Regions from separate parts of the Homo sapiens genome. Here region 2 is linked to region 1. The links come from fine-mapping of genetic effects on gene expression. A gene starts in region 1. The other region holds a variant in brackets. All regions are shown on one strand. Distances are between the middles of the regions. Region 1 holds the start of PACS2 (phosphofurin acidic cluster sorting protein 2). Region 2 has its middle 21 kb from the start of NUDT14.

The links. PIP is the estimated chance that this variant, and not a neighbour inherited with it, causes the effect.
Region 2: its variant is fine-mapped to the expression of PACS2 in whole blood (TOPMed, PIP 0.96).

Annotation. Positions count from the first base shown.
Region 1 is chr14:105,312,905-105,317,274 of GRCh38, forward strand. PACS2 (phosphofurin acidic cluster sorting protein 2) reads left to right here and starts at 1,844. Exons shown (of 25, transcript NM_001100913.3): 1 at 1,844-2,133. The coding sequence starts at 2,015. It also overlaps a transcript of BRF1 not described here. RefSeq lists silencers at 1,206-1,295, 1,396-1,925, 2,066-2,155, 2,386-2,465 and an enhancer at 2,210-2,861.
Region 2 is chr14:105,200,328-105,204,697 of GRCh38, forward strand. No RefSeq gene overlaps it. Among named protein-coding and RNA genes, the nearest start is that of NUDT14, 21 kb to the left of the region's middle. The variant C/A (reference allele first, on the strand shown) is at 2,710.

The DNA.
Region 1 (4,370 bases):
CACTCTGGTACAGACTGTGTGGGTCATATCCCGACCCCTGGCAGCTGCATAACCTCACAGGCCGCCATCTCCTCTTTTGTCACTTGGGATGGGACAGAACTGTCACGTCCCTTAAGGGCTCACAACGGTGCCTGGCACAGAGGAGGGGCACCGCTCAATGGTGGCAGCTGGTGCCAAGCCCTGCTGTGCACGGCTTAGTCACCCCGCATCTCCTCACTTGACCCCCAGTTGTAGTCCCTGCCTGGGTTAGACGCTGGCATACACAGGCACCATGTGTCAGGCGGCCCATCCGTCTGACTGCAACTGCACGCTCGCCAGGTCCAGCAGCGCCGTACGCTCAGTTCTGGGGTCAATGGGTGCCTGTCTCCTGCCCTCCCATCACAGACAGCCTGTCCTCCTGGGGTATGGCTACCCCCTCTCTGGACATAGTCACTTCTCCCCCTACCCTGTCTCAAAGGTATGAGATCCACCGGCCCTCTGCCCGCCGAGCAGCTGGCCAAGGTCAGACAGACCCTCATGGCTCTCAGTGTACCACCTTAGAGGAGCCAGGGGCGCGTGGGAAACACAGAGTCCCTTGTTCTCTCCGAAGTGGGACCCTGACTTTAAGCAGTCGCAGCTGTTTGCAGTTCTAGATACAGGAGTTACAGCTGGAGGCTGAGCTCTCTCAACGGAGGAAGCAGCGGCATGAGGGCCTTTGCAGAAGGAGCTGACGGGGCACTGGGGTGGCAAGCCCCGTGGGCCAGGAAAGAAACCAGCTCCAGGTCAATTTGCTCGGGCTGGATTTGTTTCAGTAAAACTACTTGTAGACAAGACACAGGGCGAAGAGAAAAGCAACTGTAAACTAACTGTGAAACAAGGAAACAGAAGAGAGGCCAGAAAACCGTTTCCTAAATCTCGGCTTGGCATCTGGTGCTGGACCACAGCCGCTGCCAAACAGATGGGGGAAGCACCCTCCCTGAGCCCCAGAGCCTACACGTCGGGCCCCAGCGGCTCTAGCCATTGCCTCCTCTTTGCTTGGGTCCCCAAGTTCACTGTTAACCCCAGGGCCAGGAGCCAGCCTTGGCCCCAGACATTTGTTCTCCATTGTCCTGAGCACAACGCTGAAAAGCGGCGCTGAATAAGGATGCTGGGACGCAAAGAGGGCGCCCGGGGTCATCTGGAGCCCTGGAGGCTAAGCTCGGCAGCCTGGCGCCCCGAGTGGCTTCGAGTCCCCGCGACCGCCGCCAGGCCCGGCCACCTCCTTGCCACCTCCCTGCGTCCCGGGGAACCCACGCAGGGGGGCGCGAGGGAGGGGCTCGGGGACGGGCGGGGCCCGCACAGCCGGGCCAACCCAGCGGGGGTCGGCAGGAGACAAGGGGCGGCGAGGGCAGGGGGGCGGGGAGACTCGGGGCATGGCGGGGTGGAGGCGGGAAAGTGTCGAGGCCGGGGAATCCGCGCGTGGGGAGGTGGGCATCGCCAGGGCGACGATGAGCTTTCCTTAGGGGGCGGCGCCTGAAGCTGGCCGGGACCCGGTGGACCCCCACGACTCTCCCGGCCCTTGCCCGCGGCTCCCGGGGGGCGGGGCGGGGCGCCCCGGGCGGGGTCTGTGCGCAGGCGCGTGAGTGCGCGCTCTCGCGCACCGGCGGGCGGGGACGCCCCGTGAGGCGCCGCCGGAGGAAGCGCGCGCGCACCTCACTTCCGGCGCGCGCTGCGCCGGCGGCGATTGGACCCGAGGCGGCGAGCTGGCGCCCCGCCCAGCCAATCGGCGGCGCCGGCGCGGGTCGGAGGGCGCCGGGCGCGCGCGGGGCGGCCGGGGGCGCGCGGGGCGCGGGCGGGGCGCCGGGCGGGGCGGGGCGGAGCGGCCGCAGCTCGTCGCCGCCCGCGGGCCTGTCCGACGCCGGGGCCCGGCCCGTCCCCTCCGCCGCCCGGCAGCCATGTGACCGCGCCGCCGCCCTCCGCGCGCCCGGCCCGCCCGCCGCGCGTCCGCGGCCCGGCCGCAGCCCCAGGCCGCCGAGGGAGCGGCGGGGCCGGCGCCATGGCCGAGCGAGGCCGCCTCGGCCTCCCCGGCGCGCCCGGCGCGCTCAACACGCCCGTGCCCATGAACCTGTTCGCCACCTGGGAGGTGGACGGCTCCAGCCCCAGCTGCGTGCCCAGGTACGCGCCGCCCGCCGCGCTTTGTTCCCGCCGGGCACCTGCTGGGGGTGTCCTGGCCGCGGCCTCTGCGCGCCCCATCCCCGGCCCGGGTCCCCCAGCGGAGCCCAGGTCGCCCCCCGCGCCCCCGCCCGCCGGTTCGACGCGTGCAGCCGCCGCCCCCCCGCAGCTCCGGCAAGCGCGGCCCCAGCCCCCCAGGTCCCGAGCACCGGGGGCCGCGCTCAGCTTCCGAGGACCCGGTGCTGCTCAGACCCGGCGGGACCTTGGGGCTCCCGGGCGGCGCTCACCTGGCTCGCCGCAACCGCACCTGCACACCTGCCTCAATGCGGTGCCGGCCGGGGTGACGAGGGTGCTTCCTCTCTCGGGTACCACACGCTTCCTTTCGCGTTCGGCGACACTGTCAGACCTCGGCCTGGGAGCGACCCCCGGCGCACGGGGCGCGCAGGACTCGGTTGTATCCTCCGTCCAGCGCGCGGTGGAGATGCCCTGTCCTGCGGGGCGGGGTCGTCCTCGCGGGTACCTGGTTGGCGCTGTCTCTCATTTAGAGGCGTCGCCAAGCCAGTACTGCTATTTGCGCCTCCCAGTTGATCTTGCCATTGCGGAAGACTGGCTGTTCTGCACTTGGTAGGGGGGCGCCCGGTCGCCCAGCGGTAACGATTGGACAGGGTTTACCCTCCGGCCATAGCCCAGCCTTCCTTGGACTTGCAGCTTCCCTGAGTCTCCTGCTCAGTTTGAAACTTTTGTAATTTCTTCGTGACTTGGTAGTTCCTGCTCAGGAAGCTCCCAGGCTAAGGAGGAGAGAGACACGCTCTCCGGAAAAGTTCTGGTTCTAGAATAGACAGCAGGCGAGAAGAGGAGGCGGTTGGGGGTAGTGAGAGTTCTCCCTGGGGAGATGGGAGGGTGAGCGGACCTTCCAGGCACTGGAAGTGGCCAGTATGCCTGGAGGGGACCCCACGTGGCATTGAGTTGTTCCACCCCTAGTCAGCTGCAGGTGGGCCTCTCCGTGCTTTCCTGTGGCTCCCACAGCCTGCATCTCTGAGCGTGGTGTTGGAGTTGCAGAGCCGCTGGACAGTGGGGCTTGCCCTCCTGGAGCGCAGGGTTGGGACCTCGGGGCTTTGGTTTTGCTGAGTGGACAGGAAGGATGCCCACCCGGCACGACTCTTGCACCTGGCGGGGCCTCCCGAAGGACCCAGTGTCCATATGAGACCTAAGGGTCAGCATTTGCCCAAGGTCTGGGGCCGAGCACTGCAGATGTGCCTGCTTGCCTCTCTTCTGGGAAGTCTCTGGGGCCTCAAAGCCAAAGCCAGGAGCATCTCCCCAGGCCTGGCTGCTTCTCCATTCCAGGTCTTGGCGATTGCCCCAATGTCAGGTCCCACAGCCCCACAGCCCTTCTCCTGTCTGCCCCTCTGAGTCACTGCCTCACCCACAGCCCCAGAACCTTCATGCGGGCTGTTGGCGCTCCCCTGCTCCAGCACTGCAGCACATAGCCTGCCCTTGCTGAACCTCTGCAGCAGCTTCCTGGGGCCCTCCGAATGAGCAGCAAAGTCTTTAACCCAAGGGAGGTGGGGGCGTGTGGCAGGAGGGGCCGGGGGCCTTATCAGCCCCCCTGTGGAGCTGTGCTCTATTCTCCAGGGGTCTAGAAAGCCCACTCTGGTGTCTGTGGGGAGGGTATGGGTAGGGCGGGTTTCGAGAAGCCTGGTTAGGACAGGCGGGGGTAGATGGGGGCACCTGGGCTGGGTAGCACTAAGTGCTGGGGGGGGTCCCGAGCTCTGGCCTGGACAGGGTTGGGAGGAAGGGTAGGCAGGAGGACAGGATTTGTTCTGTTGGTGTGGAGTTAATGGGCGGAGGAGTTAATGGGCGGAGGGGCGAGTGGCGCAGCTGACCAGGTGGGCAGATGCAGTTTGTTCGTAGGACATGCTCAGCCTCATAATGAGCTCCTGCCCTTACCTGTCCTGGAACAGGGCCCCTCATAGGCGGGCTTGCCCCTAGCTTTGCTTTGTGCTTGTGCCGCCTGTCCGTGCATCCTCGGACAGTCTGCTACTTAGTTTTGCTTTGTTCCTCCTGAGTTCTTCTGTACTCCTCACTTTTGCCCAGCCATGAAGCTTCTGGGCTGCGTGTGTGCTGATGCCTTTCGGCGTGTTCACTGCTGCGTACTATTCACTGGCGTGACAGTACCTCGGCTTTGCTTCTGTCAAGGGACCTTGGCTTGTTTCCAGTTTTTTGGTTAATTACAAGCCCCG
Region 2 (4,370 bases), 110 kb before region 1:
CTGTCCCCCAGTGGCCATGTGACCACCACACCCCTCCCCTTGGTGGGCTGGGAAATACTGTCTCTGAATAGCAACCTCCCCGGGAGCCAGGCCGGGACACACCAGCCCAAGAGCGTGCCCAGGGCCCTCCAAGGCCACCAGCAGGCTGCTGAGCCCTGATTTTCACCTCCCAGGATCACATCATCCCAGGCTCTTCCAGCCCCAGGCCCTCCACACATTACAGGCCCCTAAATTTGGCCCCACCTGAACCTACTCCTTTCCGCTGTCCCCCTCCCCTAATAACAAATCCCTGCTGAGACCTTCACCAGGGAGCCAGTCTCATCTCCTCCTCCACCCACCTCCCGGCCCCACCCAGGGACACCCCCATCCTCTGGGCCCTTCTCCATCCCCTCCCCAGAGTGCTCCAAAATGGAACTAAGCATGCGCTCTGCTCACAGCCCCACAGCCCACCCTCCAGCAGCTGGCAAGACCACTTCTCCTCTGCCGGCCGGCCGCTGCGCCTCACGCCCTGATTTCCCTGCACAAACTTGTGCCTATGGATCTTGTTGGGGAGGGGGTGGCTCGAAGCGCATCTCCCCTACAAGGACAGGGGCGCTGGCCTGTGGGCAGCACTTCCCGGTTCCCTGCTTCATCCTCGCCGACTCTGCGCACGCACTTGGCTGTCAGGCTTTCTCCACGCTTGCTGAGTGAATCCATGAACAAATGCATGAGAAACACGCATTTTCCAGAACCCCACGTGCAGCTGGAGGGAATGCTCCGGTCAGGGATTTGTGGGAGGGGAAGTCCGAAGGGGTGAGGCCTGGAGGGTGGGCTGTGTGGGGATGGCAGCCACTCCCCATCCTCCGGGCGCCGCGGGGGCAGAGCACAGAGACAGAAGCTCGAACATCGTCTCCATGCTGGGTACATGTCTCCCAGCATGTGTGTTCCTGGACCCCAGGCAGGCGAGGCTGTGGCCTGCAGGTGCTGACCCTAGCTCAGCCTCAGCCCACAGTGCCGCCTCCACCTGCCAGGTTCTGTGGCACCTGCAGTCCGGCCCTGCACTGCCGCCCAGGACCCCCACAGCGGCCAACTCAGCTCAATGGGTGGGTGGTCAAGGCTGGAGCAGAGCCATGGGGGCCAGCCCCCGAGGTGTGCTGGCGGCCGGGTTAGGCTGGGGTCATTTTCCCAGGCTCCACCAAGGCGGGTACCTGGCAGACAACGTTATTGTCCACAGGGAGGCAGCAATGACTCAGTCGGGCTGGTGCAGAGGCCCCCGGCCGCAAAGGAAAGGAGGGTCCCCACATCGTCTGGCAGAGTGGGCACTGCCTCCCCTGGGCAGGTGTGACTGGGCCTTCTGCCCGGCCTCCTATCCCAATCTCAGTCCAGCTAGGGCCTCCTGGGCCTCTGTGGTCCCAGCTTTGCTGTTAAGTGGGTACATGTAACGCTCCCTCCCTGCCTGTCAGCGGGCCTGAGCTGCGGGCACTTCCCCAATCGAGGCCCCCCGGACTGCTCAGGAGTGCCCCGACCCCAGCTGTGGCTCCTCCCTGTCCAGGGTGAGCTGGGGTGTCAGTCCTGGGGGCATCAGTGATGGAACAGAGTCGGGTTGAGGTCAGGGTTGGGTCCCCCAGCCTAGCGCCCCTGACTTCACAGTTCCAGCCGTGCTCATTGTGTGGGGACAATGGCTTCCTGAGCCAGGTTCCTCTCCGGGCAGGAAAACCACACAGAACCTCCTCTTTGCCTCCGCCCACGGCCCCTTTGAAGGGCCTGGGCCAGCCTCAGGCACTGACTGCAGCCTTGGGGCCTGCCCCCGGCGCCACCTCTTACCAGCCTAGCCCAGGCCCCGGTCTCCCCAGGGACCTGCCAGTCCTCCAGACACGTAGTACAGGCTGCAGGGACAGTTACTGACGGCCCAGGAAGCCGCCGGCCAGAACCATGCAGGCAGTGGGCTCAACACAGCATCAGAGCTTGGAAGGACGCAGAGTCCTGGGCCCGGACTCCGTACAGGCTGGAGACGGAGGCAACCGACCCCCCTCGGTGCCTCCCAAGAGGCCAGGGTACATCTGCAGGGTGGCTGAGCCCTGTGGGGGCGGACAGCCAAGGGACCCTGGAGGGTGTTGGCCCTGGAGCAGGCGCACCTAGGCTGGAGAGGGCAGAGGGTCCTGGCACTCAAGGCCTGAGAAGGGCCATCTGTCCTCACACAAGACAGGGGACTCGAAGCGGGGCTGCCTCAGGGCGTGTGCATGCCCTGCTTCCCCAGATGGTCCTGGGATGCCCCTGGAGATGCAGAAATTGGGGACCAGTCCTGCAGGGGAAGGCAGGATTGAGGGCTTTCTAGAGTCACAGGTGGCAGGTGGGTCTGGCAGAGCTCTGCACTCTGAGGCCTCCAGCCGTCTGTTCACCTTGCTGGTGAAGGTCTTAGACCCCAGGCAGAGGAGGCTGGGATGTTCAGGCCTGGGGTGTGTCCAGGGCCCCACTAAGGTCTCTGGTGCCAGGACTGGGACAGGGACTGGGATGCTGCAGGGGCAGGTAATCTCCTGAAGCCCCCAAGGCTCAGGGTTACTTTTCCTCCGAGCCTGTCTCCACCGTCTTGGCCAAGGGGTCCTCAGACCCTGAAAGGGAAGGACCGAGGAGGAAGGCGAGAAGGCCTTGCTGTGTGGGGTTGGGGGCCACCAGCCAGGCAGGGCTCCAAGATTCAACAAAGACCTGATACAACAATTAAGAACATAAAGG[C/A]ATCTTCGTGGCCTCCGGATTCACCAGATGGGGTGCAAGGTGGGCTTCATCACCCGGGAAAAGGCCAAGTGTCCCAAGAACATAAATGTCCGCTTCCAGATGGTGCCGCCCGTGGCCGCCAGGGGGCGGGCCAGCCGAGTCTCCCGGACACACTGGGCAGGCCGGTCCCGCAGGAGCCTGGATCCCGGGTGCCCATCCCTCAGCGGGTCCACGTCAGCCTGCTGTGTCTCGCTACCACCTCCAAGCTCCATGGGAGAACCACAGGGCGGCCCCCACCCACCATCACCCAGCTGTGGGGGCTGGGAAGGGCGTGCTCCACACTCCTTTGCCCGACTCCCTCAAACCAGGGGAGCGGGTGGCAGTCCCTGGTGGCAGACTCAGACTCTAGACAGTGACAAAAGAGCCCCCATTTCTGGCCCCAGGCCCAGCAGCTCCTCATGCAGCAGCCCCTGCCCCACCTGGAACAGGACCAGAGAGCAGCAGCAGGCCTAGAAGAGGGCTTCTGTCAGTGTCTTGGAGGACACTGGGGGACAGACGGTGGAAAGAGGGGCTGGGAGGTGGAGGGAGGGGATGGGGGGGAGGTGAAGGGAGGGGTGGGGGATGGGGAGCAGGAGGCAGAGGGAGGGGTGGGGGCATCCTCAGGGGCTGCCCGGCATCTGCCCTCGCAGAACCTCTCATTCAGTGAGAGACCCTGCAGGTGTCCCTTGCTGCCCCAGTAATGCTCAGCCCAGGCCCAGGATTCCTGACCCACCCTGGCTGGGCTGACCAGGGGCCTGTTTGGCAGAGGGGCAGACGTGGGCAACAGAAGGCACCTGGGGGTTGGGGGAGCCTGGGACTGTCTGCTGTCCCCTATTCCAGGGGCCTGGGCAGTGGGGGGGTCACGCTGGAGTGCTCACCCAGCCTGGCGCTGCCTCACTCCCCGAACTGCCAGGAAGCTCACCTCACTCCCCACTCTGTGGCCGAGGGATGGAGCAGGTGCCAGGTCACACAGCACTGGTGTGGGCTGGGTGACCATCAGGTGCTGGAGTTACCAGACACAAGCCCCCAGACCATCCCTCCCCGCTGCATCTGTGGGGAGTGGCTGCAGGGGCAGGCCTGGTGACTCCTGGGCCCTGTCACAGTGCCCCTGTGAGGAGAAACTACCATGAGCATCCCCAGCCAGGTGCGGTGGCTCACACCTGCAGTTCCAGCTACTCTGGGGGCCGAGGCAGGAGGATCGCTGGAGCCCAGGGATTTAAGGCCAGCCTGGGCAACATAGCATGACTCAATCTCAAAAAGAAATTTAAAAATTAGAAAGATCACCCACAGGCCCACAAGTGTCCGAGGGCTCAGCCACCATGTGGGTGTGGACTGCGGCCAGTTGTCTGCCCCAACCGGGCCCGACACCCTGAGCTGGTCCAGAGGCTCCCGGCCCTCAGCATCTGTGCATCCAGGTGTGGGTCTGGGTACACACGCTCAAGCCCGTGCACATGGTGGTGGGATGGGTGCGAGCAGACGTGTGTGCGGATGAATGTGTGTACGTGTACACGCGTACTGGGTGTGCATGAATAGCGGCCATGTAGGAGGGTGTGGTGTGCATGGAAGGGCACTCACAGGTGTGCACAGGCACACGTACGTAAGGGCATTATGCATTTCTCTGTGGATGGTCACATGCCTGCACA